Homo sapiens: one gene and its partners. The protein of the gene in region 1 purifies or fractionates together with the protein of each later gene. This does not show direct contact. Each region holds a gene or a part of one and is shown in the gene's direction. Other genes may lie near its edges.

Evidence for each region.
Region 2: the proteins of SRSF11 (region 1) and UTP14A fractionate together in Homo sapiens (co-fractionation; one large-scale study listed by BioGRID). This does not show direct contact.
Region 3: the proteins of SRSF11 (region 1) and ZNF592 fractionate together in Homo sapiens (co-fractionation; one large-scale study listed by BioGRID). This does not show direct contact.
Region 4: the proteins of SRSF11 (region 1) and TCERG1 fractionate together in Homo sapiens (co-fractionation; one large-scale study listed by BioGRID). This does not show direct contact.
Region 5: the proteins of SRSF11 (region 1) and LUC7L2 fractionate together in Homo sapiens (co-fractionation; one large-scale study listed by BioGRID). This does not show direct contact.
Region 6: the proteins of SRSF11 (region 1) and BRAP fractionate together in Homo sapiens (co-fractionation; one large-scale study listed by BioGRID). This does not show direct contact.
Region 7: the proteins of SRSF11 (region 1) and SRRM1 purify together in Homo sapiens (affinity purification with mass spectrometry; one large-scale study listed by BioGRID and IntAct). This does not show direct contact.

Annotation. Positions count from the first base shown.
Region 1 is NC_000001.11:70,244,809-70,249,190, forward strand, and holds part of SRSF11 (serine/arginine-rich splicing factor 11), read left to right. Parts: coding exon 1-7; intron 8-2,009; coding exon 2,010-2,099; intron 2,100-2,308; coding exon of another isoform or gene 2,309-2,324; exon of another isoform or gene 2,325-2,341; intron 2,342-4,382. UniProt on the Homo sapiens protein: May function in pre-mRNA splicing.
Region 2 is NC_000023.11:129,912,033-129,916,414, forward strand, and holds part of UTP14A (U3 small nucleolar RNA-associated protein 14 homolog A), read left to right. Parts: intron 1-546; exon of another isoform or gene 547-659; coding exon of another isoform or gene 660-678; intron 679-1,277; coding exon of another isoform or gene 1,278-1,363; intron 1,364-4,382. UniProt on the Homo sapiens protein: May be required for ribosome biogenesis.
Region 3 is NC_000015.10:84,803,560-84,807,618, forward strand, and holds the end of ZNF592 (zinc finger protein 592), read left to right. Parts: 3' UTR 1-2,886; downstream 2,887-4,059.
Region 4 is NC_000005.10:146,460,432-146,464,813, forward strand, and holds part of TCERG1 (transcription elongation regulator 1), read left to right. Parts: intron 1-1,586; exon of another isoform or gene 1,587-1,665; intron 1,666-3,119; coding exon 3,120-3,362; intron 3,363-4,382. UniProt on the Homo sapiens protein: Transcription factor that binds RNA polymerase II and inhibits the elongation of transcripts from target promoters. Regulates transcription elongation in a TATA box-dependent manner.
Region 5 is NC_000007.14:139,418,348-139,421,759, forward strand, and holds part of LUC7L2 (putative RNA-binding protein Luc7-like 2), read left to right. Parts: intron 1-3,412. UniProt on the Homo sapiens protein: May bind to RNA via its Arg/Ser-rich domain.
Region 6 is NC_000012.12:111,661,530-111,665,911, reverse strand, and holds part of BRAP (BRCA1-associated protein), read left to right. Parts: intron 1-124; coding exon 125-273; intron 274-4,382. UniProt on the Homo sapiens protein: Negatively regulates MAP kinase activation by limiting the formation of Raf/MEK complexes probably by inactivation of the KSR1 scaffold protein.
Region 7 is NC_000001.11:24,656,463-24,660,844, forward strand, and holds part of SRRM1 (serine/arginine repetitive matrix protein 1), read left to right. Parts: intron 1-4,256; coding exon 4,257-4,337; intron 4,338-4,382. UniProt on the Homo sapiens protein: Part of pre- and post-splicing multiprotein mRNP complexes. As a component of the minor spliceosome, involved in the splicing of U12-type introns in pre-mRNAs. Involved in numerous pre-mRNA processing events.

The DNA of each region.
Region 1 (4,382 bases):
AAACAAGGTATAGCATTGGGTGAGAAAGCAAATTTTAGGGTTCCCAGTACCCCTAGTACTGTGCTACTTAGTAACAAAAGAGGTGGTTGGGGTGCGGGGCAGAGAAATAGGGCTAGACAGGGGAAGAAACTGTCAATATTTGAGTTTGAGGAGGCTGACGTTTGCTTTCTGGTGCTTCCTTGTAAACTGAAACTTCAGCTTACAGCTGAGGGCCTAAGTAAAATTTCTTAGTAGTAGGAATTGTTAGCTGTCCTGCTACCTTCTTTCATAAGAAATACCGTAACGTTTTATTTCCATCTAAAAATATATTCAAAAACCAGTCTTTTCGTGTAGAACCAAACACTTTTAAATTAGTATGCCCCCAGTCATTTATAGTTGTGAGGCATACAATTTCACAGCACTTAATTTTTTTAGCAACTGCTTTTTATCTCTTGCTAAAATATTTATCTTAATTTTCTAGAAGCAACTCTATATTTGGCATTATTTTGTTCATTTATATATTTAGTTAAATCATGTCATTAAAGTAAGTACAGCTGGGGACACAACATAACTTACTCTTGGGAAGCATAAAACTCAACTGATGAGAACAGAAGAGTGGGGGTAGCTTTACTATCATTGTTAAACCTGTAATAATGGGGCTTTTAGTCCTTATGTGCTGCAGAGTGAATCAAACAAGGTAGATTAATAGAACAGTTATACAAAGGAATTAAGCATTTCTTTAAGGACTTTCTGATTACTAGGAGAAGAGTGATGGATTTAATTACAGGGGAGGAACTGTTAAATGATGATTGCTACTTGCTGATATTGGAAGAGGTTTGAGAATGACTCGAGTATTAAATTCTGAAAGATTTGACTAGACTCAACGGGAGGCATGCTTTCAGGTGGAGAATGGTGTTTCTTGAAATAACAATATTTTGATGTAGTTGGACTAGAAAATGAGGTCAGAAAAATATAATGAGACCGATCGTGGAAGGCTTTGTTGTTCACACTATGCACTTGATCCAGGAGGCAACTGGAATGAGTTGAAAATGGTGAACAGGGAATTAATATTTTCAGGTTTGTACTTTAAAAGATTTCTGACAGAGTACAGAATCAGTTTATGGAAGGCATGACTGGGACCTACTAGGGGACTGTTCTAGTAATCTAGGAGTTAGATGATAAAGATTCAAATGAAGAGGGAACCAATGATAAAGATTGAATGAAGAGGGAACCGAGGATGACCAGAGAAGGGAAAAAAATGAAATTGAGAATGCAGAATGGAAAGATTAGCTTAGAACAGTAAGAGAGGGATACTTTGATTCTTAAAATTAGAGAATAGTTAAAGAGGGGGGTTGTTATGAGACTTCTCATTCAACAAATATATATCGTTTATCTACTCTTTGCTTAGAGTCTTGGGGAGAATGATGATCTTGGGGAAAAAATATTGTGAGGAGTAAAAATTTATAGGAATCTGTAAAAAAAAAAAATTGAGTTACGGCTGTAGTCAAAATCTGTTGATATTTTCTAATAAGCCCTGAATAGTTCATAATAGCCGCAGAAAAAGAAGCTTGCTTGATCCATGATAGAGGTTGACATGGGATGTGTGTCTTGGAAGAATATTCATGATATTGATGGATTTTGGTAGTGCTCTATGGGTTTTGGCCTGATAGGAGAGGTGGGTTGGGAAAGTGGTAATCAGCTGAGAGAAAAAGGAGTCTTGAGGAGCCTAGAGATAGTTAACTTATTGGTGTTTACCAAGTATATTTCAAGCCAACATCCTAGTTATTTTCTCACCCATAGTCTACTTTAGTCTACTTGGGAGAAAACCTAGGATAATAGGATTTTAAAAGAAGTTATTGTACTTCAAATATGCCACATAAAGTATTATTTTTAAAACAGTTTCTGTCAGAACAACATTTATGCTTTTAAGGATGGGATTAGATCTGATTATATTTTTGTGTTTGTAGTGCTATATAAATTGGCATCAGCTGAGTCTTCTAATGCATTCATAAATTGTGTTCATTTGTTAGAGACAAAAAGAAAGAAGACAAAGAAAAGAAACGTTCTAAAACACCACCAAAAAGTTACAGCACAGCCAGACGTTCTAGAAGTGCAAGCAGGTAAGGTGGCATTGTGAATTCTTGGCAATTATTTTTTTAACTTTGCTTCTAACAGTATCAGTACGCTGTCAGTATGAAGTCTTTTCCAGAACATAAGTATTTCAGTGTTGAAAAAAGTTACATTTTGCTGTTATTTAAAGTTTTTAAAAGGCAATTTGTGAAGAATAATGTAGTTTATTTTTCTTTTTACTTAATATTTTATGGTCTAGAGTATATTTGAAGTAACATGGAATTCAAGAGAGGTGAGTTTTTCTCTTTATAGTTTAAGTTTTAATGGCTAAACCATACTGAATTGTTCCATTAAGTAAGCTTATTATAGTAAGCTATATTTATCATCTGCATGTTAGTACTTGAGAATTTTTCTATCCCTTTTAATGACTGTTGAATTAATGGGAAGCAATGCAGGTTCTGGTTTGTGTCATTCTTAGACTAATTCTATCTTTAAGCTGTCAGTGAAAATTGAAATGTTGCAGACCTTACTGCACAAAAAGCACATTTTCATACTTAATTTGGGATTTATATGATAGTAAGGGCTGGACTTCATTCCATTTTTCAGATCTCATTCACATGTTTTGCTGCAGTGCTTGTTTTATTCATCAACATTACTTAAATTCACTAGGAGAAGGTTCATGCCATATAAAAAAAAATAACTGAAATGTATAAAAGACCTAAATGTAAGAGCCAAAACTATAAAACCTTTAGAAAGAAACAAAAGTGAATCTTTAAGACCATGAGCTTGGTGGTTTCCTAGATATGACTTCAAAAGCATAAGCAACAGAAGAAAAGAAAATTTTGGAATTCACCAAAAGTTAAAACATTTGTATTTCAAAGGATACTATCAAGAAAGTAAAAACCTAGAGTGCTAGTTAGAAAATTCTTTATATATTCTCTATTAAGAACTCTTAGAACTCAGCAATAGACAGGCAACCCAATTTAAAAATGGCAAAGAATCTGTAGCCATTACTCCAAAGGAGATATGCAAATATCTAGTAAGTACATAAAATCTGTTCAACATCATTAGTCACCAAGGAAATACAAACCAGACCACAGTGAGATATGTCACAGTCACTAGGATGGTTATAAATCAAAAAGACAGATGATAGCTGAGCCTGACAGATGATAGTAAGTGTTGATTAGGATGTGGAGAAATTAGAACCCTGTGCATTGCTAGTATGAATATAAACTGGTACAGGTGTTTTAGAAAACAGTCTGGCATTTCCTAAAAATGTTAAACATAGAGGTTTTTGACCCACCAGTTGTACCCCTGGGGGAAAATGAAAACATTTTCACAGAAAAACTTTTATGTGAATGTTTGTGGCATTATTTCATAATAGCCAAAAAGTTAACTATCCATTAACAAATGGATAAACAGAATGGTATATCTATACAATTGAATATTTTTCAGTGATAAATAAGGTTGATACATGCTACAGTATGGATGAAACTTGCAAACATCCATGAAAGGCCGTGTATTGCGTGATTCCTTTTATATGAAATGCCCAGAATAGGCAAATCTATAAAGATACCAAGTAGATTACTGATTGCTGGGGAGATAGGGAGGATTAGAGTGATAACTAAAGGGTAGGGAGTTTTTGGGGTGGTGAAAATTTTCTTAAAAACTAAATTTTTAAGCATGAAAATGAAACCAAATGTAAGTACAGAAGGAAATGCTGAATCAGGCCTGAGGGATAGGTGGCAAAGAGATAGAAAAGATGGAAGGTACTACATATATTTTCTTACCTTAAAAACTGTTGAGGATTTTTTTTTTTACCTGTTGCTTTATATAATGTACTTGTAAGTGCCTTCTCATGCTGTATTATTGGATCACTCTAAATTAAGGCATCTTCTGTGAGTTATTAAATACCCACTGTGTTTGTAGTTGTGCTACAGTCTGTTGAAGGACACGGAAATGTAATATAAAATACTTCTTCCGTCTAGAGAATTTGGAGTTTCAGTTACATAAGACAGTAGCAAAAAGTATAAGGTGCACAGTCGTGACAATGTTTGATAAGTGAATGCTCAGTTATGTGTAACGTTTCCAGGACAAGGGTCACAGAGGGCTGTGTAAGTAGAAAAAAAGCTTCATTTGGAAATTAGACAACTAAGTACAGGGTTTTTTAAGTCTGATAACTTTTGAGAATCAGGAACAGAATTTTTTTTTTTAAGTTACAGTAAAAAGGAGGGGAAGGCTGTATATCAGCTGTATATCTTCAAAGTAATTGGTGAAAGCAGGGTTTTGGGGGACTGCAGGAGGGCGATTTTGCTAGAGTATAAGGTTTCTAC
Region 2 (4,382 bases), on another chromosome or scaffold:
AGCTTAGTGCTCAGAAAGAAGGGGTTGCCCATCGTCATTGTCAGTCATGTGATAGCCAGTCACAATAGCTCTGTGATCACTTTTTTTTTTTTTTTCTTGAGACAGGGTCTTGCTCTGTCGCCCAGGCTGGAGTGCAGTGGCACGATCTCAGCTCACTGCAACCTCTGCCTCCTGGGTTCAAGCAATTCTCCTGCCTCAGCCTCCCAAGTAGCTGGGATTACTGGCGTGCACCAACACGCCCAGCTAATTTTTTTTTTTTTGGATTTTTAGTAGAGATGGGGTTTCACCATGTTGGCCAGGCTGATCTCAAACTCCTGACCTCAAATGATCCGCCCACCTCAGTCTCCCAAAAGTTTTGTGATTACGGGCATGAGCCAATGCGCCCGGTCTCTGTGTCACTTTTCATCTGCTTGTAGTATACAGTACTTGCTATTTCCATGTTTTTGTGTTAAACCATGTGATTGCCCGTATAGCAGGAACATAATAATGTTTTCTTTCTTTTACCCCAGTTTTTAAAAAGCATTTAAAGCCACATTCTGATCCTAGGGAAATCAGGAACTCGATAACATTAATGATGCCTTAGTGAGGATATGTGAACAACAGAAGCCAAACTTTGCTTGTACAGGAATACCGCATTAAAATATAATGTGTTGCTGGCAATGACTAGAACTTCAGCAGGTAACTTACTATGACTCTGAGCTGCAGGGCAGGGGTTGATGTTTTAGAGCTGGGTTTCCCAAACACTGACCCCTAACAAAGTTTGTGTCTGAAGCAAAAGGATAATTCTAAGTATGTTTGTTTGGTGGGTGTAATGTTGCCAGTTCTTTTTTATTATGAGGTTATTCTATTTTAATGGTGTTGAAATATCTTTTCTTCTATGAAATGATGGTGGTAGTAAATGATGGGATTGGGGGTGAAATGGTAGTTATGCTCTTGGCAAAATTAGAAGTTGGAAATCCTATGTTGGTCCCTGAAGTCCGGTTTTTAGTCCGAATAACTGCTTTAGAACAGCTAGCCTACTTTTCCAATACACCATTGGTATGGAGTCTATAATGGGCTGATTAGTCTTAAATAGATGCCCTCTTTGTGCTTCTCCTCTTTACTTTCCAAAAACCCAAGAATGGTAGTTTCTTAGGCGTTGGGAAGTTGAGCTAATTAAAGCTAATCAAAGTAAACATTGCTTGCCACAATAGCTAGAAATTGAGCGAGTAGTTGCTTATTATGGGGATAAGCTGTTTCTGATGTTTTTGCTGAAGTCACTACCATTCTCTTTCTAGGAGGCTTCCTTTTCTACATGAAAAAGAGATCAGGTTTAAAGTGTGGCTGCAGGATGAAGGGAGACTTTAGAAAAAAAAAATCAGAGGTAATACAATTTGTAGGATTCAAAAATAAAAAAGCATAGAAGATATGTAGTGAAAAGTTTGATTCCACCCGTGCCCCATCTGATCATTTTTACCCCCATACTCACCCAGAAGTAACCACTTGCATAAGTTTGCTGTTGTTGTTGTCTTAGAGTTTTATTTCTATATTCATGTTTACCTCCTTTTTAAATAAAAAGAAGGGTAGCATGCTACTACACACTGTCCTCCACCTTGCTTTTTCCAAATGACAGTGTAATCTTGGAGATAGCAGGAAAATGCCAAGTTTGTTATTAAAAACGAGATGGGGCCGGGTGTGGTGGCTCACGCCTGTAATCCCAGCACTTTGGGAGGCCGAGGCAGGTGGATCACCTGAGGTCAGGAGTTTGAGACCATCCTGGCCAACATGGCGAAACCCCATCTCTACTAAAAATACAAAAATTAGCGGGGCATGGTGGTGTGTGCCTGTAATCCCAGCTACTAGGGGGGCTGAGGCAGGAGGATCACTTGAACCTGGGAGGCGGAGGTTGCAGTGAGCCGAGATTGTGCCACTGCACTCCAGCCTGTGCAATAGAATGAGACTCTGTCTCAAAATATATATATAAATAAATAAAAAATAAAAACTAGATGGTAGTGGAGGAGGTTACACTAAGAATAGAACAACCTCTTCAAGATAGAGTGAGGCTCAGATGTCATACATTGAATATACCATGCCGTTCATTCATTCTAAGACTGACTTTTGAGAAATTATGCTAGTAGGGCACAGAGAAATAAGGAAGTGCTTAGTTCAGAGGGTGCTTTGTGGCTAGCAACTCCTAGGTCTCTCCTTACAACTTAGATTGCAAAGTACCAACAACTAGTATATGCTGTATTAGGATTTCTAGAAACTGAATATCAAGTCTCAGACCAGGCACGGTGGCTCACGCCTATAATCCAAGCACTTTGGGAGGCTGAGGCAGGTGGATCACCTGAGGTCAGGAGTTCAAGACCAGCCTGGCCAACATGGTGAAACCTCGTCTTTACTAAAAATATGTAAATTAGCCGGGCATGGTAGCACATGCCTGTAGTCTCAGCTGCTGAGGAGGCTGAGGCAGGGGAATTTCTTGAATCCAGGAGGCAGAAGGTACAGTGAGCCGAGATCACGCCACTGCACTCCAGCCTGAGGAAAAAAAAAAACCCTCTACTCTTTCCCCGCCCTCCCCCAAAAAAAAGAAAAGAAAATCGAAAGTCTGTACTATAGTTTTGGTCCAGCTCCCTAAAATTTTGTTTAGCTGCAAATAATTAAGTGGGATAATGCATGAGAAGGCATTTGTAAACTGCAAAGTGCTAGAAATGCTGTGAGGTAACTTCTTTCACCCCTCTCCTCACTATTCTCTGTCTACAGTGGTATTTCCCAAGGCATTCTCCTTGAAACCTTAGTCTCTCATTATGCCTTCACAAGAGGAGGAGAGGAGGCATTGCTAGAAAATGCTGCATGCCCCTACTGGAGATCGGAGAGTCACAACATGCTTTAGCATTTTAAAGTCTATGAAACAGGCCAGACGGATGTGGTGGCTCACGCCTGTAATCCCAGCACTTTGGAAGGCTAAGGCGGGTGGATCACCTGAGGTTAGGAGTTTGAGACCAGCCTGACCAACGTGGCAAAACATCGTCTCTACTAAAAAATATTAAAAAATTAGCTGGACGTGGTGGCTTATGCCTGTAATCCCAGCTACTCAAGAGGCTGAGGCACCAGAATCGCTTGAACCCAGGAGGCGGAGGTTGCAGTAAGCCAAGGTTGGGCCACTGTACTCCAACCTGGGCAACAGAGTGAGACTCTGTCTCAAAAATAAAAAATAAAAATAAAGGCTATGGGCCGGGCGTGGTGGCTCACGCCTGTAATCCCAGCACTTTGGGAGGCTGAGGTGGGTGGATCACAAGGTCAGGAGATCGAGACCATCCTGGCTAACACGGTGAAACCCCGTCTCTACTAAAAATATAAAAAATTAGCTGGGCACGGTGGCGGGCGCCTATAGTCCCAGCTACTTGGGAGGCTGAGGCAGGAGAATGGCATGAACCTGGGAGGCGGAGCTTGCAGTGAACCAAGATCGTGCCACTGCACTCCAGCCTGGGCGACAGAGCGAGACTCTGTCTCAAAAAAAAAAAAAAAAAAAGGCTATGAAACAATGGTGAAGACACCTGTTGGATCTAATTTAACTTAGGGTGTACAAACTGATTTTATTAAAATTTCAAAAAAATTGAATTTTAAGCTTTTAACAGGGGAGGCAAATCTTGTTATCTGATGAGAAATGTGTTTGGGGAAGAGCTGGTCTGTCTCCACTGCTGCCTCCTCTCTCTCACCTTCTTCCCCTACTGCCCTACTGAAACTTCTCTCAAAAGGCATTAGTGAGGGGCCTCCGAATTGCCAAATCCCAAGCCCTCTTAGTCTTTAGCATATTTGACACCATTGGCACATTTCATTCTAAAAATCTCTCCCCTCTAGCTTCTGTGATATACTCTGGGTATTTTCTCTCTCTGGCTTTCCTTAGTCCTTTTTATTCTTGCTCTGTAAATTCCATGACTTTTTTTTTTTTTTTTTTTTGAGACGGAGTCTTGCTCTGTCGCCCAGGCTGGAGTGCAGTGGTGCAATCTCGGCTCACTGCAAGCTCCACCTCCCGGGTTCACGCCATTCTCCTGCCTCAGCCTCCCAAGTAGCTGGGACTACAGGTGCCCGCCACCACGCCCAGCTAATTTTTTGTATTTTTTAGTAGAGACGGGGTTTCACCGTGTTAGCCAGGATGGTCTCGATCTCCTGACCTCGTGATCCGCCCACCTCGGCCTCCCAGAATGCTGGGATTACAGGAGTGAAAATTTCATAACTTTCGACTATCACTCTCAACCCCTTCTTTGAAGCTCCAGTCTCATATTCCATGTGACTAGCAGGGATCACCTGGGTCCCCCATATGCACCTTAAACTTAGTCCAGTCCAAAGTAAGCTTCGCATTTCCTTTCCCCAGACTTCCAAAACCTATACCACCCCCTTCA
Region 3 (4,059 bases), on another chromosome or scaffold:
TGACATTGGCTTTAGGGCGTATCGAAATTTTCTAGGCACCTTCATCTTTCCTTCAGTTGATTTTCAACATAAGAGAACCCCTTACTGGTAAAAAGGGAAAAGGGGGTGGAGAAGAGGAATTTTATAATTTTCTTATAGCATTCAAGAGGTTTCTTATTTCTTACAGCATCGCTACTGCCACAGAGAACTCAAATGTGGCAGAACTGGGATTAGACTTGGGAGACTGGCTGTCTTTTCACTGATGGTGGAGTCAGGGCCCACCCAAGCACGAGGAGCAGGCTGTGTGGAGGTGTCGTCTGACCTCTAACCCAGGTGGCATGGGGTTGCGCCCAGCAGGATGTAGTGGAGTAAAGGGAAGAGGGTGCTGGCCGGGTGCTTAGAGGTCATCTTTCAAGGAGGCATTAAATATCAATTATAAATTATTAAGTCAGATAAATATGCCTGACCTTTTCACAGTTGAAAAAATACATTTTTTCCCCTCTATCAAATGCCAAGTTTTTAGTGGAAATGCTAATGGCAGTGGGAAAGGTTGCCTCACTTTCAGAGAGACTCTCGCTGTCTGCACCCTTTTAATAATTGCTCTTCCTGGCAAGGCTGCCACTTCCCTGCCTCCCCAGCTGGCAGTGGGGCAACCCAGGCCTGTTTCCAGCTACCTGCAAAGCCAGACCTAGACCTGCCGTAGCTGTTGTCCCATGCCTAATTCTAGTTACAGGAAGCCATCCCTGTACCCTGGGTCCATTCACAGGAATGGGTTCCAGAGGAGGCTGATAGAAGGGTTTGAAATGACTGGCTGGATCCCTTCCTGCTCAGACACAGTGGTAGCTGGAGAGCAGGCAGAGATGGTAGAATTGCAGGTTTGACCACCTGTCGTGACCCCAGATATACATCTCCTTCCTGGGAAGAACGTGAGTTGGAAAAATGCTGAGCCAGTCCCTGGAAAACCTGGGTCCTGGCCTGGATTCTGTCCTTAGCCAGCTCTTAACAAATCCCTTAACCTCACTGTCTCCTCTCCTTCACAATAGAGTTAGTAATTCCCATCCAACTGGCTTCACAGGCTTTTGTGAGCTTATGAATGTGAAAGTATTTTCTAGTTTATAAAACACTATATGAATGTGGGGAAATCTTTACTTGACCTTAGGGCATGGAGGGTGGAGCACATTTTGTCTGCTGTTTGGACTTGGATGCTGATTAGCAGTTATGAAGTGGCCCAGACACCTAGCCATTCTTTAGTAAGAGTGAAGATAGCATTTTAAGCCCTCCTTGTGTGCCTAGCATCTTACTGAACACTTTCTGGTGATTCTCTCCTTTAATCCTCACAAAGATCTCACAGTTGTCCTCCATTTTACGGAGAAGAAACCGAGGCTCCGAGAGGTTAAACGATGTGCAGAGGCTACCTGTAGTGATGGTGCTGAGTCAAGCCTGTCAACCACTGTGCTCGTTAGTGACCAAGGCTGCTTTGACAGGCTGCCAGCTTGTCAGTGGTTTGCAGCCCCCCAGACATTTGCTTTCCTACTTCCCATGCAGTTGGGGTGCCCTGCCAAGTGCCAGGTTCTCTTTGGAGTCCATCTGTGCCTTGTCACCCCAAGGAGGGCCTCGAGCATCACACCGTTGACATTTCGAAACGTGGTATCTCTACAACCTTTCATTCTCATTGGGATTTACCTTGCCATTTGAACACCATCATTTTTTGAGGACTGTCTAGAAAAGGTTGCCTAACCCTCACAGGGAACACACAGTTCCCTCAGAGTCCAGCATCTTCTGGTCTTTTCTTTTTCAAGATTTTTTTAAATGGTTGTGCTATCATTTGTCATCATCAGAAAATGCTTGCTGTAACAAGCGTTTATCTGCACATTATGCTGCAGTGAATGCTCTACTGATCAAGTTAAACAGATAAGATCCCTTCCCTTGTAGAAACTACAACTTAATACAGTCTAAGACTTGACAAATTACTTAGTATTTATTTTCCAACTGCTTTATCTCTGTAAAATGATATGCTGAATTATTATAAGCTAATTGTTGTAGAAAGAACTTTCCCCTTAACTTATGTAAACAGTCTGGTTTTAAAAAATTTGATAATTGTGGCCCAGTAAGCTCAACACTTTGCCTTCCCCAAGACTGGGGAACCTCTGTCCTGTTCACCACTGTATATTCAGCACCAGGCAGTTTCTTTTTTTGTTTGTTTGTTTTTTTGTTTTGAAAAATTAATACATATACATGGTAAGACATTCCACAATACAAAAGGGTATACAATAAATGGTAAGCTTCCCCATGGAGGTCAGCCTCTAGTCCCCTCTCCAGAGTTAATCACTGTTATCTATATGTTGTGTATCCTTTCATAGCAATTCTATGCATTTACAAGTTTATAAATATGTATATTTATATATCTATTTTTAATACAAATAGTAGAATTCTATACACAGTGTTCTGAAGCTTGCTTTCTTATATAGTATTTTGGAGATTATTCCAAATTCATACATTGGGTCAGAGTAATTCTTTAAAAGTTCCTTGCATATAACAGTGATTCAAAAAGTATATGGATGAATGAGTGAATGCTGCATGAATGAATGAATCTGATTCAATTGGTAGCTACAGCTGTTCTCTCAGGGTCTGATCTGACCAAGACAGCACCTTCTAGATTCTAGAATGTGTCCTCCTGACTAAGGGGTTCAGGATACTGTTCACCTTCTCCAACAGATGCCACCGGAGCCTTAGGAACTGGGCACAGGAAGCCTTGGGCCCCTGGAGGAAAAAGTTGAGACTAGGACGCAGGTCCCAAGTATGGGATTTTTTTGGGTTCCTACTTAAAATGCTTTTTTCTTTATTGGAAAATGATGTAACATTTTAGAGAAATTAAAAAGCACACATATTTATAATCTCTTCCTCTTACCATTGTAGTTGTTTTCATTTTTGCCTATCACTTTCCAATCCTTGTTCAGCACATTTGTAATTGAATTTATGGTATAATTATGATAGCAGCAGTGGTTAACATTGAACATTTCTATATGGCAGACATTATTCTCACATTCATTTTTATTTAGCTTCACAACAATCCTGTAAGATACATACTACTACTATTCTTTTGGAGACAATAAAATTGAGGTTCAGAGTAGTTGAATGACTTCCTTAAGGCCATGGAGCTAATAAGGGGCAGAGCTGGAATTCACACTCAGGGGTGACTGACACTATACTGTCTCTGATTTTGTACTCTACTTTTCTCCACTTAACGCAGAAAATGTCCAGTACATGTTTCTACATAGCCTTTAAATCATCATTTTCTTTTCTTTTTTTTTTTTTGAGACGGAGTCTGTCTCTGTCGCCCAGGCTGGAGTGCAGTGGCGTGATCTCGGCTCACTGCAAGCTCCACGTCCCAGGTTCACGCCATTCTCCTGCCTCAACCTCCTGAGTAGCTGGGACTACAGGCGCCTGCCACCATGCCCAGCTAATTTTCTTTCTTTTTTTTTTTTTGTATTTTTAGTAGAGACGGGGTTTCACCGTGTTAGCCAGGATGGTCTCGATCTCCTGACCTTGTGATCTGCCCGCCTGGGCCTCACAAAATGCTGGGATTACAGGCGTGAGCCACCATGCCCAGCCTAAATCATCATTTTCCATAATTGTAATCACGTTCATCATGCCAAATCAATACAATTGACCATTTCCTGTTTAACATGTAAATTCCCTACTTCATCAGTGCAATGAAGAGTCCTGAGCATATAGCTTCTTGCTTCTGCAGAATTATTTCCTTGGGAGTTTAGCCCTATTTTTTTCTTGAGTAAACTGGCGAGTGATAGAATGGAGAAGTTCATTGTCATAATAGTAATCAGACGCCCTAGGGTGCAGTCTCATTTCTGTAAGTGACAGTCATTTGGTCTTTCCTGGCCTTAGTTCTCTTATCTATCAAATGAAGGGGTTGGTTTATATATCTCTGGGGACCTTGATTTTTATCTTCTCAGTCTGTATACGTTCATGTCAAAATAGACCTTCCCAAAGGCAAGAACTTGTATTTCCTCTTTTGCTTATTTTTTTATTTGTTTACTTTTGACCTAGATGCATACAAAAATG
Region 4 (4,382 bases), on another chromosome or scaffold:
TTATTTGATTATTTGTTATGGCACTTGTCTCAAGATACACAGCTGTCCCTACAGTGTGATTATAATTTGTATTATTTTACTACCAGGATAATTGATAAGAATAAAGAAAAAATGTGGGGTTTTTTTGTGATTACTTCAGGGACTTGGGAATTATTAGTGTGTAAGAAATACGTATAAGAGAGAAATTAATTCACATTGGCTTCAAATTTGAATTTATTTTATTGATAAAAAGCAACTGAAGCAGTCAAGTAAGGTACATATAATATGGGGATAGCCTTTAAAGATCCTCTTAATGGTTTTTAGACATTTTGTAGCGGGGGAATGTACTGAACAGGAAAATATGAATAGTGTTTTACAAATCTGTTTGCTTTTGTAGTGAAGGTGAATTTTGATATGAAAGTATAACAGTCATACTAGCTAGTCTGTTAAGGGTTGTTACCTTTTTATAGGTTTAGTGCTTCCCAAACCTCTGTGGCAAGGCAGGAGACTACCAGTTTTTATGGGAGACCTGTGGTAGTAATGGGAGAAGGGGATTAATAAAAGCAATGTAGTTTTATGTGGAGGCTCTGTGTTGCTTACATTTTCTTTCCTGCGTTCTTAGAAAGGAGAAATAGTAGTGCTTCGTTTTGTTTTAGGAAAGGTGATGAGCTAGATAATTTAACCATACTATATATAGTCCATGTCTGTTTTCAGAGTAGTGTGTCAGTAAGCTCATAGCTGTCTTGTGTCCTGTTTGTCAGTTTTGCTTTACTCTTCAGTGATTGGGAGGACTTTATTCCCAGAAATATAATATAGCAAAATCATATTCTTTTTACTGCTTTTAAACATCAATTTTGATGTTGTCTACGTATTCCAGTGTGTGTTTTTATTTTACTTGATTTAGTATCATAAAGTGTTGTCTTACTGCAATCTTAATATTTCTCCATCTATTATATATAGTCACTTGTCTTTTTTAGTTAAGATCTGAGGCTGGGTTAGTATATTTTGAGGCCTAGTGCTTCACTAGCTACTTTAGCAAATGAAGTTAGTGGGAATTTACCCACTGAAGTCTTAGATACCATTCTCCCAGTTTCCCATTATTTTATTGCTTTTGTTCTTTTCCTGTCGTGACTCATGGCTGCTAATCAAATTCAGAAAATGCTGTGCTGGAAAGTAAGAGGAATGGGTTGTAAATATTTTTTGTCATCTCCATTGGTGTTCTTTTCCACTTGAAATTTGATGCCCTTATTTATTTTCCTGACTATAGTACTTTGGATCACAATTTTAGCAATTATCTGAATACTATAATAATATTTAAATTTTAATTTTCTGAGCTACAGTATAGATCTGTGGGGTAAATGGGACTAAAAATTAAGAATATATTTTAATCCCAGTTGAGCATAAACTCATTTTGTGCAAGTTTGTGAAAAATGATGAAGAAATCCTACTTCTCAGGGAAGTTGGGAACAATGACCAGATACATTTTCAGCCAGTATAGTAGATTACAAATGCTAAATGGTATATGTATGGGACTGGGCAAATGTTGCATGTACTTTGTATTTTTCACACTGTTATAAAATTATATTAATATGATACTGTACCCTAAGGCTAGGTCTATGCTAGACCAACAATTCATTCCTGGGCCCCTGAAGATACTTGTTTGGCCCTGCTGTCTATTTAGCCAAGGTGAGTCCCTCATTAACAAGTACGAAATTGCTCACATCTTCCCAGCCTAAGTGAGTTTTTCATTATTAGAAGCTAGAAAAAGATACTGACAGATTTTGTTGTCAGTTGGATTATTGGGTGATTTGTATTAAATAGTGTGCTTTTGTTTAGAACAAAGTTGGCATAAAGATTGGGAAAGCACTGTTTTCATTTTATTTCATTTGACAAATTCATTCTTAGTCCGATACAGGTAGACATTTTTTTCTTTACATCAAAAAAAGATGAAGTATTTGTTACCAATGAATTACCAAAATGAATTTTATTTTGGAACTAGATGGGTTATGAATAAATAACAAAATTGTTTTGTAACATGTGAGAATTGAAACTGAAAAGTATGAAATAAGGATTTTAGTTTTTAGTTTGATTTTAAATGCAATTACTAGGAATGGGATGTTTTATTTTCGATATTTAAAAATAATGTGTTAGCAGAACCCAAATGATCCTGAATTTCACATTTTCCTGGTCTCTCACAATGGAAACCTCAGTTTAAAAAAATTTTATTTTTTTAAAATAATGAGAGAAACCTGAGTTGTTTTTGATTCCATTCATTCATATCCAGTTAGTCATTAGTTATTTGCTTATCTTTTTCTGTTCTTTTCTTCCTATGCATCTGTGAGGTTAATTCATCAAATGAAACCTGTTTATTACTCTTCCATACAGGAACCTTTAGTTTGCTATATACCCATTTACCTTCATGAAATCACATAAATAATGTGAATGCATTCTTATAAAAAGTTCAAAGTCTAACAAAACGTATATATTAATAGTAAAATGTGAAAGAGGCATTCACAGAGGGTAACTACCATTAATGTATTTTGTCTTGTATTCTACTAGATAATTTTCTCTATATTTACCTAAGTTCTGCCCTTTTCCTATCCATTTAAGGGCATACTCCTTAGCCTTTTGTTCAAGGCTTTCTAATTTCTGCTTCTGGCCTACCTTTCCAGCCACACAACTCACTAGTTTTGTTGGTATGCCTACTGTTTCACTCATTAATTGCTTGCCTTCAATTTTCTAAACAATTCCTTTTGGTTCTTTACTCTTTGCCTTATTCATACTTTTCTCACTGGTTTATTTTTTTCTTCTACCCCTTCCTGCTGTTTTTCTTGTTGAAATCTTAATTTTTCAAGGCGCAGCATCCCAATATAAACTTTTCTATACCCTCTCACAGTTAGAAATGTTCTTTGGGTCTTGATTTTTACTCCTATATGTTTATCCCATTTTACTTTGTATTCATTTTTGTATTTCATTTAAGTATTTTCAAGCTTCTTGAAGATAAGACCTTTTGACAAATTTCTTGCAGTGCATAGAATGGTCCCTTAAATACTTAAATTACTGAATGTGTAAATGATGAATGAATATAGTAAAATGATTTATGAAGGAGTGATACATGTTTTTGTTTTATCTTTTATCAGCACCCACAACACAAGATCAGACCCCAAGTTCTGCTGTTTCAGTTGCCACGCCTACAGTTAGTGTTTCAACTCCTGCTCCTACAGCCACACCTGTGCAAACCGTTCCCCAGCCGCACCCTCAGACGTTACCTCCTGCTGTTCCTCATTCAGTACCTCAGCCAACAACAGCAATACCTGCTTTTCCACCAGTAATGGTACCTCCGTTTCGTGTTCCCCTTCCTGGCATGCCAATTCCACTTCCAGGTAAACCAACAGATTATAATGGTCTTTCCAGCTATGTTTTCATATTGTCAGTTAGTTTGTTCTCATGTGTCTGTTGCGTTTGAAATTTGCCTTGAATCTCACCTGTTTGAAACGTTTTTGAAAGATTCATGGCTAACTGCAATATTTTCTCTTAAGTTTTGGTAAATGTCCTTTTTTTGTTGTTGTTTACATGTCCTAAAATTAGAGCCACATTTAAAGCTACACTTATTTTGGATAATGCCCTCAATGAGTTAAAAATGATTATCTTTTCATGTAAATAATGTTCTAAATGCAATATTTTTGAAGGGTTGAGTTTATGAAGTTGAGAAATCACGTCACAATAGCTAACACAAGTTGGATGATTTATATACAGTGCACTGTTGTAAGCATGTTACATGCATTAACTCCTTTAATTTTTACAACCCATGTTACGAGATAGGTACACAGACAGGTTAAATTACTTGCCCAAGGTCACATAGCTAATAAGTGATGATGTTGAGATTTGAGCCTGTGCCCTCCACATCCAGATAGTAAGCTTTTAATAACTATGTTAATACTGGGAAGAAAATGTGAGTGATTTAACTATAAAACAATTCATATAAAACAGGAACTAGAAGGTTCCCTTGTAACAATTATGAAGTAAAGCATAATGTGCATCATTTAAAAGTTTAAATTGTTATGGTGAATTAATGTGTTATATTGTCTTAAGAGAAGTCATTAAAACTAGAGAAAGAATTAAGAAATATTGTGGAGTGGAATTCTTACCATAGGGTTTAAAAATGATAGTGTTGGGCATTCCAAATTTGAATGCATTAGTTTTTGTCAAACACATTTAATCCTTGATCCATGGTTCATTCTCCTTGTGTTATAGTTGAAAGTATTGGTACCTTAGAGAGGTCAGGTTCACAGGGCTAGTTTGTAGCAAAGATGAATAGAACTTAGGCCTCTTGTCTCTCAAGTTCACATTCCATCCACTTATTGCTACTTTCTTATACTCCTTTCTGTGTAAGAATACAGTTG
Region 5 (3,412 bases), on another chromosome or scaffold:
GTAGAAGAGTTTAGCATTCATAGTCTGTATAGATCAAACTGTCAAAACTTCTCAGGTCACATGATGGCCCTTAAACCAGGTAATTTCTGTGTAACGTAAGCCATGTTTAAAATTGCTTTTTTCTTGACAACTATTCAGAAGTATATGTATGATAAACATTTTTTGAGTGCCTAGTACCTACTAGTCTTACATATTCTGTGGATTACTCCACATAAAATCTATAATAAAATCCACAGAAAGCTGTTAAAATCTTTCCTATTTTTTTTTGACTCAACTTTCCATTCCCTGAAATCACTCACAAGCTGAGTTTGTTAATAGGCTCTCAATATTTTATTTCTTATATTCTGGCCTTGTTTTTAGTATTTCTTAAGGTGATTTTAATAATAATTAATTGTATATGTTTTACTGTACTAGACTTAGTAAAACATAAGAAAGACGTATAACATAGTTGAACAACTTTAAGTTGCTCTAAGAAGTTTCCTATGTGAGGCTGGGTGCCATGGCTCACGCTTATAATCCCAGCACTTTGGGAGACCGAGATGGGCGTATCACTTGAGATCAGGAGTTCAAGACCAGCCTGGCCAACCAACCCCATCTCTACTAAAATACAAACATTAGCCGGGCATGGTGGCACATGCCTGTAATCCCAGCTACTCAGGAGGCTGAGGAAGGAGAATTGCTTGAACACAAAGGTGGAGGTTGCAGTGAGCCAAGATCGCACCACTGCACTCCAGCCTGGGTGACAGAGCGAGACTCCAGCTCTCAAAACAAAAAAAAACAAACAAAAAAAAAAACAAAAAGTCTCCTATGTGAGTTAGAACAAAGGATTGACATCTTTGACAATAATTAGACTGGCATAAGACTACCACATGTTATAAAGTGCTAAACTGCATATCATAGAATAAATGATCCGAGAGTTTAGATGAGGCAAATAACAGAGTAATCAAAAATGGCTTCAGGTAGTCGGTAAAATTTGAACAGGTAGAATCAGCTAGGAAAAAGATATTCCATATAGAGTGAATATCCTAGGCAAATGCAGAGAATGAGGAGGGAGTTTGTAAAGGACAGAGTGATTTGTAGGCCTCTTATCTCACACTCTTGAAACTGATTTTGGGGGTCTACCCTCAGTGCAGTGTTCAGAAATAAGCATTTTTTAAAAGTTACCTGTCTTATCTGCACAATGAATTTTCAGAATTATCCTGCTAGGTGATGGAAGGTTTAGACATTTTCCTGTGTCAAATCTGCCCAACTGTCATTGTTGTTGCTGAACTCCTAAATGTCTTTATTGGTGATGGGTATGGGAAGGATGGGCGTGAAGTCCCCTAATCTGAGATTGTGTTATTTTAGTCCCTGATGCTTCCTGCGTTGATGAAGTTGTATAGGAATTTTTCCACCATACATGATACATGATCATATCTAAGATGTCAGCATGTTCATAAAGAGGATTATTTTTGTAAAACTATTAAAAGTTTTGCTTTTCTCGAGCACTTTCTCATCTTTGAATTCAAATTATTCTCTTTTAAAGCATCATTCTTTGTTTTATACTAAAAATTACCAGATAATTGCTGTTAAAACCTACTTGGTATTTCATACAACATCAAGTTATTGCTACATATTTGGGTTTAATTTTTCAAGGTAAAAGTTCTTATTGAAAGCCTTTTATGTTTTGCTGTTCTCCTTTCCCTACTGTGAAATACTTGTCTCTGATACAAGTAGATTCTTTGTGACCTCTTCCTGGCAATAGTGCCCTGCGTAAATGAGGACCATTTGCATCTATCTATCTTTTTGCTCTGTTCAAACATGTTTAGTGCAGACTCCAAAGTCAGATTACTTGGGTTCATTGGTTTAGGCTAAGTAATTTATTTTTTTTTTTGAGACGAGAGTCTCGTTCTGTCACCCAGGCTGGAGGGCAGTGGCGCGATCTCGGCTCGTTGCAACCTCTGCCTTGCGGGTTCAAGCGATTCTTTTGCCTCGGCCTCCCAAGTAGCTGGGATTACAGGCCCAGGCCACCACACCTGGCTATTTTTGTATTTTTAGTAGGGACAGGGTTACGCCATGTTGGCCGGGCTGGTCTCAAACTCCCGACCTCAGGTGATCCACCTGCCTTGGCCTCCCAAAATGCTGGGATTACAGGCATGAGCCACCACGTCCCACCTTGGCTAAGTAATTTATAACTATCTCACCTGTCTTTCCCCATCTACTAAGTGGAGAAAGTAAGAATACCTGCTTTGTTAAGATTATTGGTAGTTTGAGTAAAATAGTATATGGAAACCACTATGTGTGGGACATAGTAGTTGATACTCATAGTTTTTTAGTTATTACTGATCACTGGGACTGTTTGGCATCTAGTGTCTTTTTAGGTATCATTTTTACCATCTCTTTTCATATTTTATTCCAACAAAGGCTATGGATAGGACTAGTGTAGACGTGGAATCACTAGACTTGGCACTGTGATTTTTTGTTGTTGTTGAGATGGAGTCTTGCTCTGTCACCCAGGCTGGAGTGCAGTAATGCGATCTGGGCTCACTGCAGCCTCCGCCTCCCAGGTTCAAGTGATTCTCCTGCCTCAGCCTCCCGAGTAGCTGGGACTACAGGCACACGCCACCACTCTCAGCTAATTTTTTGTATTTTAAGTAGAGACGGGGGTTTCACTATGTTGGCTAGGCTGGTCTTGAACTCCTGACCTCAAGTGATCTGCCTGCCTTGGCCTCCCAAAGTGCTGGGATTACAGGCGTGAGTCACCGTGCCCAGTCTTTTTATATCATTTTAAGTTTATTAAAACATTAAGTAGAATGTTCAAAGTGGACATTATTTTAGAACCATTTTTTGTTTAACCCTCCTTAACTATATTTCTAAAACTGAACAGTCATATTTTTTATTTTCCTGAAAGTATTACTTATTCAGGTTCTTGGTAGTGCCTCAGATCCTAATTTTGAATATGGGTTGAGTGAGATAATTATGTAAAAGTGCTGTGTCACCTGTAAAGAACCAAATAAATGTAATTTGTTGAATTTTAGATGTTGGAAGTATGGAAGATTCCATGTTTATTCTGATTCCATAATATGTTTGGTTTTCCGATTGATTTATTATTTACCTTTCTTATAATGAAGTTGGGTATGGGAATGGAGAAGGTAGTAAACAGTTATGGCTAATCAAGATTTATTAGTGTGAGCATCTTTGTCTTTTTTTATTTCCCCTTGTTGGTTGAATAAGCTAACTCAGTATGAGTAGATTTTTAGAAGTGGTTATTTAAATTCATATTAATAATTGAGTAGTTCTCTTATCTAAGTCAGGTGTTGGCAAACTGTTGCCGATAGGCCAAATCTGGCCGGTAGCCTGTACAACCAGCAAGCTATGGATGGTTTTTACATTCTAAAAAGAAAAGAACTGCCACAAAGATTGCATGGACCTG
Region 6 (4,382 bases), on another chromosome or scaffold:
ATGATTGCGCCACTGGGCTCCAGCGTGGGTGACAGAGAGCGAGACCCTGTCTCAGAAAAAAGAAGGAAAAATAAAGTATTGCTGGTAGATGAAGAGTGAGGCTTATGTGAGGTGTTTCCTGTAGGGCGCCAGCCTCCCAGTGATGGACCTGACTGAACTCCCCAAGTGCACGGTGTGTCTGGAGCGCATGGACGAGTCTGTGAATGGCATCCTCACAACGTTATGTAACCACAGCTTCCACAGCCAGTGTCTACAGCGCTGGGACGATACCACGTGAGTGCAGGGGCCGAACCCCTCTGTGTACAAGCCCATTGCAACCCTTCCAGAATTAAAAAGAGCCACCAGCAGAAATGAACCATTCCAAGTATTTGACTTTATTCAAGAGGTCCTTTTTCTCCTTCCCTTTCCTAAGTTCAGGGAATCGGCATTCTGAGACCAAGTCCTTTTTTAGTATGCTGATTCTGAACCCTTGTGGAATTCCCCAAAGCAGCATGAGTTGTTCTTTCCTTCCAAGAGCCAGAGAGTGAAAAAAAAAAGCAAAGCTTAGTTTGAGGCTCTCGTGCTGCAGTGAAATCTAGGTCTGGAATCTCATGTATCAGCTGCACTTGGTGTCTGCCATTCACTCTGGGCTTCTTATCAACTGGGCTACAGCAGCCTAATATTTTAGCTTTGCTGGGCTGTTGATGGCTTGGTGGCCAGTAGAAATAGCAGTTACTAAGTATGAGATCTACTCTACAGCCTCCTGATTCCCAACATACCAGGTCTTAGTCATAGGTGATGTTGCTACAGACAAAGAACAGGTAAGGCCTGTACCTTTTTTTTACCCCCTAAATCCAGGATGGTTGCTCCCTTTGCAGACTGCACTGTGGGACTTAACCAGAAAGGTGTATCAGATGCTGGCCTTCTGGATTTCCCAGTACAGAGGGGAACCCAGAAATGAAATCACACAAGTAAATAAATCACAGCCATAACCAGTGTTACAGAAGAGCAGTGTGCAGCATTGGGACTGAGAACTGGGGCCCTAATGAAGCCAGGACCACCTGAGAAGTGGCATCTCCAGGAGGGTAATTAGGAGTTAAGCCGGGTAAAGAGCAGAACCCAGAGAAGGCAGTGGGGGAAGGGGAAGATCATGTTCCCAAGCACAGAAGTGAGGAGGGGTGAAAGTCTACAGGAATCTCTGTCCACCCACAAGTGGCCTGGTGGCCGGAAGAAGAATATCAGCTTCACAGAGCGGGGGCCATGCCTGGCTTGCTCACTGCTGTGTCTCTCACACCTGGTGGGGGACGTGGCACACAGTGGTAGACACTGAGGAGCACATAAATAAACTGGGTCTCTGCAGCTTATCACTGCCCTGCTTATTTAGCTGGACAGGAGTCTTGCTCCAATTCCGTGGAGTCCTCAGTCAATTCTTAGGTATCATTTGGGAGTTTTCCAAGGAATTGTCCAGTTGCCTTGAACAAAGCCATACTGAGATATGTGCATTCCTTAAAGTGTTTACCTGTATCTTCAGTCCATCTGCTATACCAGTTAAGTTCTAGGCAATTCTTTGTTCCCCGCCACTCCAGTTTTACTTTTTTTTTGAGACAGGGTCTTGCTCTGTCACCCGTGTTGGAGTGCAGTGGTATGATCACAGCTCACTGCCTCCTCAAACTCCTGGGCTCAAGTGATCCTCTCGCCTCAGCTTCCCAAGTAGCTGGGACTACAGGTGTGCACCATCTCACCCAGCTAATTGTTTTTTTTGTTTGTTTTGTAGAGATGGGGTCTCGCTATGTTGTCTAGGCTGGTCTTGAACTCCTGAGCTGAAGCAGTGTTCCTGCCTTGGCCTCGCAAAGTGCTGGGATTGTAGGCATGAGCCACGATACCCATCCCCAGTATTCCTTTTGATATAAATTAACTGTTACAGAACCATAGCATTTTAAAGTTGGAAGTTTCCTCAGGGACCATTTTTTCCAACAACCTCATTTTATACAGGAGGAGGACACAGGCCCAAAGATAAGAATTTGCAAGCTCAAAGTGTCATGGCCAGAGAATGCCAGAACTGGGACTAGAATTCAACCTGTCATATGGGATGTAAGACATGCCATTTGCCCTCAGAATCATGCAGTTCATTTAATGAGTTTTGAGCCTTGGTACATGCATAGAACTGTGAGAGATGCTGAGACAGAGGAAGCAAATTCAGGTCCTCTTTGGGGTGGTTTGGTCTAAGAGAGTTTACACTTGGACATAAACACATGTGGTTCAGGGTGGAGATTGGAAGAGAGAATGATGGCATCCCCAACCAGGGGTACTCAGGAAGGGCTGCAGTAGGAGGCAGTGTTGGTCTTTTTGATAGAGATGTCAGAGAAGGCTTTGGGAAGAGCTCCCAAAGATCTCATCAGGAAAATAGGATAAAATAATTTTTTGCAGAGAAAGGCAGGAAGAATTTAATAAACTGTTAATTATTATTATTATTATTTTTTGAGATGGAGTCTCACTCTGTCACCCAGGCTGGAGTGCAGTAGCGTGATCTCGGCTCACTGCAACTTCCACCTCCCGGGTTCAAGCAGTCCTCGTGCCTCAGCCTCCCGAGTAGCTGGGACTACAGGCATGTACCACCACACCTGGCTAGTTTTATATTTTTAGTAGAGATGGGGTTTTGCCATGTTGGCCCAGCTGGTCTCGAACTGCTGACCTCAGGTGATCCACTCACCTCAGCCTCCCAGAGTGCTGGGATTATGGGCGTCAGCCACTGTGCCTGGCCGATAAACTGTTGATTATTTTTTAGTAGACAGATGAGGTAGTATATCATAGAATGCTAATTGTTTGTTTACAAGTTTATTCTTGTAATTTTTTTTTCTTTTCAAGATCAAATTTACATTTCAGAAAGATCGTTTTGATCATTTGGGCATAGTGTAGAGAATTAGATTTCAGAACCAGTTCTGAAATCTAATTCTGTTGTTTTTAGTTTTTTGTTTTTTTTTTTTTTTAGAAGGGCTTTTGCCACATTGGCCAGGGTAGACTTGGCTTCAAGCCATCCTCCTGCCTCGGCCTCTCAAAGTGCTGGGATTACAGATGTGAGCTACTGCACCTGGCCTGTTTTCTTATTCAACCACTTTCACAGCCACCACACAGACCGAAGGGATGAGACAAAGCCAATTTCTACTTTCTGCATTCTGCTTTCTGGCTACCATTTCTGTTCTTTCTTTGAGTTTGTCTTCTGTCTTCTCTTTTGATGCTAAAGGAAGAAGTGGACTAGATCCTTTCCTTTCTCTTACACAGATAGAGCTGTGTCATCTGTGACACAGTGTTCTTCCTGTTTATTCCATTTTCTTGGTTTTATTTACTTAGTTGGGTAACTGTTACTAGTTATAGCTTTTTTTTTTAGACGGAGTTTCGCTCTTGTTGCCCAGGCTGGAGTGCAATGGCGCAATCTCAGCTCACCACAACCTCTGCCTCCTGGGTTCAAGCGATTCTCCTGCCTCAGCCTCCCAAGTAGCTAGGATTACAGGCATGTGCTACCATGCCCTGCTAATTTTGTATTTTTAGTAGAGACAGGGTTTCTCCATATTGGTCAAGCTGGTCTTAAACTCCCGACCTTAGGTAATCCGCCCGCCTAGGTCTCCCAAAGTGCTGGGATTACAGGTGTGAGCCACCGCGCCTAGCCACTAGTTATATCTTGAGCATTGTTTCTTCCTGGTGCCAGTTCAGTCAGCCTCAGCTATAACCCACTTTCTGTCCTAGTTGCCCATCTAACAAAAATACTCATGACTAGTATTTAGTATTATTTTGTGTGGAGTATAATAGAAAACAGTTAATGGATTTTTTCAACATTGTTTTTATTGGCTTTTTGTAAATTGAGACATGAATGCCTGATAGAGCACTGGTATCTTCCACATGATGTTCACGGTGCAGTGAGATATCATGTGCATTTCAATAAGTACATTAACACCTTTGTGTTTAGCCAGGTGCGGTGGCTCATGCCTGTTATCCCAGTACTTTGGGAGGCCAGCATGGCCAATATGGTGAAACCCTATGCCCACTAAAAATACAAAAATTAGCTGGGCATGGGGGTGCATGCCTACAATCCCAGCTACTTGGGAGGCTGAGGCAGGAGAATCATTTGAACCTGGGTGGCAGAGGCTGCAGTGAGCTGAGATCGCGCCACTGCACTCTAGCCTGAGTGACAGAGCAGGACTCTGTCTCACAAAAAAAAAAAAAACCTTTTTTTTTTACTACAGATTTTAAATCCAATTCTTAGGAGCAACCTGGAGAAGAAAGGGTACTTTTTGAATGATTTAAATCTTTGGGAAATGGGGATAAGGCAGGTTGTTTGTTGGAGTAAAAATACATTATAGGCTGAGCACGGTGGCTGACGCCTGTAATCCCAGTACTTTGGGAGGTCA
Region 7 (4,382 bases), about 46 Mb from region 1:
GTTCAGTCCTCAGTTTGAGAGAGGGGCTTCGGGATCACTGTTTTCATAACCTCATGTACCATACTGCTTTTCAGCATTGGGAAAATTTCAGTCCATTTTCAGTTACCATGTCCAAATCTGATGCCCATGGCCCTGGCCTATTTTGTCTTTTCCTGTAAAGTTTGTACTTCTGAATATTTATTCTTTGTCTGGAGCCACAAAGCTCTCCAGGGAAAAAAACAAGTGTTTTTACCTGTTACTTTGCAAAAACACATCAAGTGATGATTTTTTTCTATTTATATCATATAGCCTAAGAGTTGCAAAAGTACCTGAACAGAGGGACCAATCCTTGTTAAAATAGGTTGATTGTTAAGAATTATTAGGTACTTTTAAAAAGCATCTGCACAGATGCTAATTTCTTGTGTTTTGGCATATACTTTTTGCAAACAAGACAAGAGTGGATATGTACATAGGAAAGAAGTAAGCCATGGTGAAAATAAGTATTTCTGTGGGTTTTGGGACAGGGCTTCCGTGTTCAAACAACCTACCCAAAGAGAGGCACTACAGGCAGTGTAGTCAGTCTCCCCTGTGACCACTGGAGCTGAATATTGGTTTGACCTACTTGGAAATAACCTCTCCCCACCACCCCGCTAAATAGAGCCAGCATCTCACTCTGTCACTCGGGCTGGAGTGCAGTGGCCCAGTCATAGCTCACTGCAGCCTCCAACCCCTGGGATTACAAGTGTGAGCCACCACACCCGGCCCAGACAACCTTTTATATTAAACTGATCCCAGCCCTCTGTGATGAAATTTCAGAGCTAGAAAAGACCTTAACAGTTGTCATCAAGAAACAGATTTTCAGGTTAGTTGACTTGGTCAAGGTCAACCAACTAGGAATAAAACTTGAGTTGTCATTCCCAGTTAAATAGTGAATACTTTTCACAACTTTCCTACCCCAGAACTCTTCTTTGATTGCTAAAGGTGAGAAATGGAGGGCAGGGTTGAAATTCTTTAGCTTCTCTATCTGGTAGTATGATTTCAGAAATTACTTTGCAGTTTCTGCTGCTTAGAACAGTAACATCATTGAAATGTAATAGATATTACAGTTAATATTTTCCCTAGTGGCCACTAATCAGGGCTTTAGGGCTCTGCTCTTGATAGTGGGCAAATGGAGTGGGAGGGAGGCAGGAAAAGTGTTTTGGGGAACTTACAGGTTAATTATTTGGAATACAGTATACAGTCATCTGAAGGGATCTTAGGGGAAACATTTGTAATTACTGACATTTCATAAATTGGCATTATCTTAGTACATAAAATAGTGCTTGAAATCAGTGGCACAGTCAGCGAAGTATGTTAACATGATCAATACTGGTGGTGACGGTGTGGTAATTTTGATTTATTTAGATTAGCTTGGCCACATACATTGTGCTATCTGGACACTTAAATGGTTATTTTACTATTGTTGGTCACAGAGTAACTTATCTTTATAAGTGATCTTTTGGGCAGGTCTAAGATTAATAATTAATAGGACTGTTGGAGTAAATTTAAAATTGTGGTTTTAAAGTTGCCTTCTACGATTTCTGACTTCATGCTAGAATGATTTTGTCCCTTGAATACTTAAAACAACATTAACATAAAGTAAATGGTGTAAAGTCTCATCTAGAAAAATAGAAATCTGAAGTGCTGTTATAATATTAATAATGCTGTGATTCAATTGTATTAAACCAGAGTAGGAGTATATAAATGATAGTTGTTTGATGGTATAAATTTTTTTTTTTTTTTTTTTGGAGACGGAGTCTTGCTCTGTCGCCCAGGCTGGAGTGCAATGGTGCAGTCTTGGCTCACTGCAACCTCTGCCTCCCAGGTTCAAGCAATTCTCCTGCCTCAGCCTCACGAGTAGCTGGGATTACAGGCACATGCCACCACACCCAGCTAATACAAATGTATTAATAAAGACTACTTTAGCTGAGTAATTAGTGAGAAATTGAATCAGGATGCAACTCCAGATGTGTATTTCCACTGGGGGAGAATGGAAATAATGTTAAATTCACTTGTATTATATAATGAGTAGGCTTTTGCCAACTATCTTGTAAGCATAACCACATTTTTAATGTTTCTTAGGGGAAAATGTATCCAAACAATCAGCTTCCAAAGCAAGCTTGGGAACCCAGTTCTCTAAGGTGTGGTAACTTGGACATGCACTTTTTAACGACGTGCCCATAATATCTTTGCAGAAATTGAGGATTAAGTAACACTTAAAAATAGAGAATATGGACTTAGAAAAAGAGCCTCAAATAGTTAACAATTTTAAAATATTTTTATTTCTTTGAATTTGTTAAAATATAAGTATTAAGTATAGTTTGCTATTTGCACTGTCATGATTCCTGATATCTAATTGAGTGATAGCCATTCTTTACCCAATCCAGTGATTTGTCCAAATGGCTTATTACGTAGAAATTTTAAGAAAAGTCGCTGGGCGCGGTGGCTCACGCCTGTAATCCCAGCACTTTGGGAGGCAGAGGTGGGTGGATCACCCGAGGTTGGGAGTTCAAGACCCGCGTGACCAACATGGAGAAACCCTGTCTCTACTAAAAATACAAAATTAGCCGGGCGTGGTTGGCGCATGCCTGTAATCCCAGCTACTCAGGTGGCTGAGGCAGGAGAATCCCTTGAACCCGGGAGGCGGAGGTTGCAGTGAGCCGAGATCATGCCATTGCACTCCAGCCTAGGCAACAAGAGCGAAACTCTGTCTCAAAAAAAAAAAAAGAGAGAGAAAGGGAAAAGTCTGTTCATTGAAAAGGCATACTGGTAAATTCTTCATTTTGACTTCTTTAGCAAAGATGCGATTACTGTGTTAGATCACTGGTTCTCTAATTACTGCCCCTTGGAATAAACCATTACAGAATTCTGAATGTGAGTGTCTGTTAAATGAGATGTATCTGTATTCTGAGTCAAACATTCCATGGCAATTGCTTTAATCACACAAAACAGGTATCAGGATCCTGAGAGGATCAAATTGTCTGTAGGTTTATTTCTTATTGGGATGTTCTCAAGTGGTGTTTTAGGTTAATTTATGGTATATATATGTTTATATGTGAATATACTTATGATTTTAGTTGTAGCAATGGATAGATACTATAAGCAGAGTTAGTTGTTGAGATTAAAACCCATGGCCTAAAAATAGATTCTTGGATTCACATCTTAGCTCACTTAAATTGTCTTTGTGACTGAGGTGAAGTTGCTTCTTTTTAAGCCTCAGGTTTCCTCTCTTGTGAAATGGAACAGGGAGAAAGGGATGTGATACTACTGTGTTAATAGTGTGTCTAATACAGCAGGCTTACAAAAGGTAGTTACCATATTTCTATGTTATTGGTAAAAGACAATTGGATAATTCATAGGATACCCACTGCTCTCCTACTACTTGAGGTATAGAAATGCCTTTTTTTCTTTCTAGCTCTTTGGAAAGAATCCTCGTCTTTGTATTTAATCATTTTTACTATTTGTGGCGGTCTGCTTTTTTTCATGGGTAGTTTAAATCCCCTGTGCTATTGTGAAGATTATGCTCTACATAAAGAACCTTTAACCTGTTGGGCAGTCATTCTTCTTTTCTAGACCAAATATCTTTGTGAAAGTTTCATGAGATCTTATTTCTTAATCATTTATCATCTTTTACTTTTCTGAACCCACCTATTGTGGTTGCTTAAAAGCTTTCATGTTGATGAAGTCTCTGAAGTTGAGTGTGAGGGAGTGAGTGTGGGTGTGGAGGGTGTGTATTTTAGATTGTGGAGCTCGTGTAGCACACAGAGGTTTACTTTACTGAGCTTGTTCTACTCAGTAGCAGCTCCCAATTTCCTTTAACTGTTGGTTTTCTTGGGAGAATCTCAAGATTTGAAAATCATTGTAGAACTTTTTGAGGCTTTTCATTAAACATTTAAAAATTCTTGTCTCACTTCAGATAATGTTCAGATATGACAACAAGGTCTTACAGGAATTTTTTAAGTCTTCATAAATTCTTTTTGAGAGTAGTCACACCCATTTTTGTAATAGCAGGAAGGCATCTTGGCTGGGCACAGTGGCTTGTGCCTGTAATCCCAACACTTTGGGAGGCTCAGGCAGGAGGATTGCTTGAGGTCAGGAGTTCAAGACTAGCCTGACTAATATAGTGAGACCCCATCTTTATTTAAAAATAATAATAAATTTTTAAAAATTAAAAGAAAAGCATCTTGTATAGACCTTTTTTTGTACGTAAGCTTTTTTCCACTCTTATTCTTTTTTAGTGACAAAACATAAAGGTACTGAGAAAAGAGAATCCCCTTCACCAGCACCGAAGCCTAGAAAAGTAGAGTTATCTGAATCGGGTAAGTTTGTTGTTTTTTTTTGTGATTTTGGTTTGTTTGTTTTTG